2 separate regions of the Homo sapiens genome follow, and region 2 is linked to region 1. The links come from fine-mapping of genetic effects on gene expression. A gene starts in region 1. The other region holds a variant in brackets. All regions are shown on one strand. Distances are between the middles of the regions.

Region 1 (3,043 bases):
GGGTAGTAATTCAAAGTATTATTTCTTCGTTGGTTGTGTCATATAATAATATCATAGAACTACAAATTTGATAGTCTAAAAGATGGAGTTAAAAGATGTTTTTGAAGAAACCATTTTTTTTATTTCTGGTTTGAAGATTTAAATTGAACATTTTGAAACTAATTATTTTCAATAATGCTAAAAGTACTATTTCAATAGCCCATATATAATTTTATAAAATTGTCTGTTATTTCTACTTATAATAAGCTGCCACTCTATACATTTCATACCAATAAATTTGAGATTTTTTAAGTCATCAAATATCTCCCATGTATTGACATTAGAATACCTAGACATTTGTTCTTTTGGTAACTGAAAGTATAATCTAAATTGAAAAAGTTTAACACTGATCTTCCCAAACTGTACAAATCAGGAACTACTTTCCAAAGAGAGTCTTGTGCATACAAAGGGCAACAGATTGTACATTTGGAACTATTTACATGTGTATATTAAAATGCTATTTCCAAAGTCCACTGCAATGCAATTAGTTTTGGTGCACTACAAAAAAGAACACTCAAACTTAGATTCTCAAAATTCAAAGCACCAAATATCCACATACTAACTATGCAATGAGAAAGTATTTTTTTCAAATGAACATTCCAATATACCTTAAATGCTTAATTCTGAATTTAAAAATGTAATGAAGGCCATCAGCTTAAATTTAAAGTTACTTAGTTCGACTTTGAAGTTTTCTCTCTTCATTTGTAAAAATATGATACACCTAAAATAGATGGTAGACATTTGTAAAACTTACACTGTCAGAGTGCTTGCCCTGGTCACAGTCCCACGTTGTAACACGCTGCCCGGACCTCTCCATGGTGCTGAAGAGTTACTCTTGCCCATTTGAGAGGGAAGAGTTGTTTATTCAAATTGGCTTTGAAAGAAATCCGTAAAGGGTCACCTGGGTTAGCTAGTAAGGTTGTCTAAAAAATTTCTATAACACACACTAAATAAGTGATGCTTTTGCCCTTCGGTTATCAACCACCATGCTCAAGCAGCTCAAAGTAGATTTTGGAGCAGAAATCTTCAAGTATTGGCAAAAAAGAGCGAGAGCTTTTTGGGAGATGAAGTTTGCTGATTTTTGCCAGTGTTCTTCAAATTGATAAAACACACAGAGAAGACAAGGCTACTCGGAGAACAGAGGATTCCAGAAAAGTTCTTGATCTTAATGCAGAAAAGAAGATCCCATTAGTCCAAAGCAGCCGATTCACTTCATGCTATCATCTGATCTACTTTTCGATTAAAAATAATACAATAAAATAGAGTTAAGAATTCCACAAGGCACTGCACACACCATGTAAACAGGTCTGCCTCATTCTCGCCCCAGCCTCGGTCTGCTGAAGATTATCACAGCAGAAATCAGGCTCTGTGGCTTTCACAGATTATCTCTTTCTGAGGCTGAAACGTATAAAGAGCCACATGACACCCAATGATGTCATCTCTAAAGCAGGTCACAGTTGCTGCTGTATATAGATAAAGTCCTTCTAGTGAAGTATTTAGCATAGTGATTTTCTTGAAAATCTACTTATATTAAATAGCATGGTCTTCTATCAAAATACTTAACCCTATCGATACAGTGCCATGAAGAGAAAATCAATTTGCTGCTCATATGTGAGATGAAGCCTCCCCTTTAAGCTAAGATCAGCTTCTGGTACTGCTTTAAAAAATGAATAACTGCCATTAATTTGTGGTGAATATAGTGAAGAAGGGCTTTTCCCTGGAGAAGCTGCTGTGGGAACTAGAGGCTCTCTAAGGATATAGAATCTACTTCTAAACACCTCTCAGAATATTTAGCATGTCCAAAAATTATTTTTTAATTCAATCCATAAAGATTGCAAAATAAAAATTAAGGAAACCATCTTCAACTTCTAACAACAGTTTATGTAACAAAATTAAAAAGTTATATAAACATAAAAACATCTTACTATCTCTGAAACGATTGGAGTATATTTTCAAGTGTTGGTTAAAGAAAAACGTTCTTTAACTCACTATTTTTAGATGTTTTTCAGTTCTGAATAAAGTAAAAATAGAAAATTAGCTATATTATTACTAATCTGCACACCTAACTGGTAATTCATAGTACACATATTCTTTTAAAGAATGTTTAAATGAGCAATGTCCATGATCATTCTTTGCAACATATTTTTCTCTTTCTATTTAGTCATATGCCATAATTTATGATTTTCAGCCATAATTGTCATTTATGCCAGTTAATAAATTATCTAATCCCCTTTCATGCCAACTAAACAATTCTTATAGCCCAAGTGAAGAATAACTTGAAACTAATCTAATTAGTGCTTATTAAATGTATTCCCTCCCTTAAGGCCAAATGGATCAAACAAAAGCAGCTTTCCTTTAAGAGCACAGTATTCTGTCATATTTTTGAGAAAAAACCATAAATCTGAGGAGAAAACAATTTTCCACACAACCAGTGCCACTGAACAAATTCTATTAAAGCAATGGTGATTGTTCTGGCATCTCATCAGGAAAATATTGCCTCACCAGCTTCTCACCGCGTATCTAAAATATCCAAATAAAAATTGAGAATGCTAAAATATCCAAATAAAATATCCAAATAAAAATTTATTTGGATAAATTTTTATCCAAATAAATTTATGCTAAATATCCAAATAAAAATTGAGAAAAATATCCAAATAAAATTTGGAATATTTTATTCCAAAGGCTAAAATATCCAAAAAAAAATTGAGAAAAAAAATTGATCATCTAAATGTTCTGATCCACTTCAGTTTCCTAAATAAAGCAGATATTTTTGGTCAATTTCTACAGTTTAGTATTTTCTACACTTTAACAATGATGAAGATTATCTGGGGAATTTTTAAAAATTTAAAAGTCCCTGTAATCCCAGCACTTTGGGAGGCCAAGGCGGGTGGATCAAGAGGTCAGGAGTTCAAGACCAGCCTGGCCAAGATGGTGAAACCCCATCTCCACTAAAAATACAAAAATTAGCCAGGCGTGTAGTGGGCACCTGTAATCCCAGCTTCTC
Region 2 (2,500 bases), 560 kb before region 1:
TGTTACTACTCTGTTCAAATTGAAATGTTAGAAAAAATGAAGTATTGGGGGTGGGAAAGATGGGCAGGGAAGTCACCATCTTAAGTAATAACTTTTAAGCTTTTCCTCAGGAAATTGGGGAAAGCAAGTAGACATATAGCTTAAGTTGTACTTCTTTACTGGGCAATGAAAGAAAAGGAATGACGAGAAAAATTAATACTGTGGATATCAGGGAAACTAGGTCCTTGAATGCCGCACCCAAAGAATTACTTGTCACTACAGGTTGAGTAAACCTTATCCACAATGCTTGGGACCAGAATTGTCCTGGATTTTGGAATATCTGCATATGCATAATGAAATATCTTAGGGATGGTACCCAGGTCTAAACACGAGATTCATTTTTGTTTCATATGCACTTTATACACATCACCTGAAGGTAATTTTATACAATATTTCATAATAATTTTGTACATGAAACAAAGTTTTGACTTCATTTTGACTGCCACCTGTCACATGAGGTCAGGTGTGGAATTTTCTACTTGTGGCATCATGTCAATACTCAAAAAATTTGGGACTTTGCAGCATTTCAGATTTTAGATTTTGGGGTTGAGGAATGCTCAACCTGTATTGTTGCCACCAACAAAACTGGCATCATCTACAGACAATAAACCTTTAAAAATGCTTCGCAGAAACACAAAGTGTTTTCCTCAACATCTTCCTTGATTTTTGTAGTTGAAACAAGCTCCTATCATGTGCCATGTGAAGTAGTGTTTCTGCCCTCGAGAAGTTTGGTAAGAGAAATGAGGCAGTACACAAATGACTAGATATGACGAAGATGAGTTAAATGCCTCCGAATATTTTGTTTGCTCACTAGAAATTCAAGAGAAGAGAACGCTCAGCTAGAGTGAACCAGGAGACTGCAACAATCTTGTTCATTTGGTTATTCACTTATTTAATGTCTGTATTTTGTAGATCTAGATTAATGTGAATTTCCTTAGAACTTACATCTTGGTTGGTTTACTCAGTGCTATATCCCCAATGTCTGACATAGTACCTGGTTCTCAATAAATACTTTGAAACAATTGAATAAATGCATATGACCCTCATGGTAACATGATGAAATGGGAGTAATGTAAAACAGCTCTTACGTACTCAGGAAAGGAAGAGAAATGGATGTTTTCTTCTCCTAATTAAGAACAACATCAACTGTCCAAGGAATAGAGTCCTTTGGAGGATAGAGGAGATCATGGGAATGGAAGGGCAAAGACAGAGGGATGCATCCCAAGACACCAAAAAAGGAACTGATGGCACTTAGGCAGTGATCTACATGGGGGAGTGAGCAAGATAAGGAATTGTGAGGTTTTGAGACCATTA[C/T]TGGAGTAAAACTGGTGCTGTGAAAAGAAACAGGGAAGTTAGCAGAAGGAACTGATTCTGAGAGGGTTGGGGTAGAGTAAGGAGGTTTAAATTTTCATCATAAAATTCGCAGTTGAAGGTGTAAGAGGCAGCTGGAGCTTAAGAGAGATCAGGCTGACAGGTAGAATTTAGGGGTCTTTTGCACAGAGAGGACAGTTGAAGCTGTAAAAATGAATTAGATTAAGGGAGAGATTGTAGAGACAGAACTAAAGAGAAACAAAGACATCACTGTGGAAGGCACAATAATGTCCCCTGTCTCCTGGGTCAACTGTCTACAACCTAATCCCCAAGCGGCAAGGTAAAATTATGATAAGCAGCTGTCTTTGAGATGGGGAAAGTAGCCTGGTTATCCAGATGAGCTCAATGTAATAATCACAAGGGTCTTATAAAGTAAAAGTCGGGGAGGCATAAGAGAAAGAACCAGAGACGGCAGTATGAGAAAGGCTTGGTCCAATGTTGTTGTTGGCTTTGAAGATGGAAGAAGAGGCCACAAGCCAAGGAAGGTGGGCTGTCCCTAGAAGATGGAAAAGGCAAGGAAACTGATATTTCTCTAGAGCCTCCAGAAAGAATGCAGCTCAGTGGACACCTTGATTTTAGTCCAGTGAGACCCATTTAGGACTTCCAACTTTTGATATTATAATACCAATAAATTTGTGTTGATTTAAGCCACTAAATTTGGAAGACTTTGTTATAGCAGAAATAGAAAACTAACTCAGTAGTCCCTCCTTATCCATGTGGTATACATTCCAAGACCCCTAGCGGATGCCTGAAACTGAAGATAGTACTGAACCTTATACATACCATGTTTTTCCCATACGTACATATCTGTGATAAAGTTTAATTTATAACTTAGGCACAGTAAGAGATTAACAACAATAACAGGTAATAAAATAGAACAATTATAACAATATACTGTAGTAACAGTCATGTGAATGTGGTCTCTCTCTCAAAATAGCTTAATATTTTCACACCACAGTTGACCGATGGTAACTGAAACTAAGGAAAATGAGACTGCAGATAAGGGTAGGAAGCCCACATTTAGAGAGCAAGGGGATGCAAAGGAGACATAGTCAACAAAGTGAGAAGAGAATGAAAACTAACACAGTGA

Evidence for each region. PIP is the estimated chance that this variant, and not a neighbour inherited with it, causes the effect.
Region 2: its variant is the best candidate, but not a certain one, in a credible set for the expression of SCHIP1 in lung (TOPMed, PIP 0.81).

What each region holds. Positions count from the first base shown.
Region 1 is chr3:159,271,634-159,274,676 of GRCh38, reverse strand. SCHIP1 (schwannomin interacting protein 1) reads right to left here and starts at 1,433. Exons shown (of 8, transcript NM_014575.4): 1 at 794-1,433. The coding sequence starts at 856. All of the region lies in intron 4 of IQCJ-SCHIP1 (IQCJ-SCHIP1 readthrough), which reads right to left. RefSeq lists a silencer at 750-950.
Region 2 is chr3:159,832,716-159,835,215 of GRCh38, reverse strand. All of the region lies in intron 4 of IQCJ-SCHIP1 (IQCJ-SCHIP1 readthrough), which reads right to left. The region is part of intron 2 of SCHIP1 (schwannomin interacting protein 1); the gene reads right to left. Among named protein-coding and RNA genes, the nearest start is that of IQCJ-SCHIP1-AS1, 65 kb to the right of the region's middle. The variant C/T (reference allele first, on the strand shown) is at 1,354.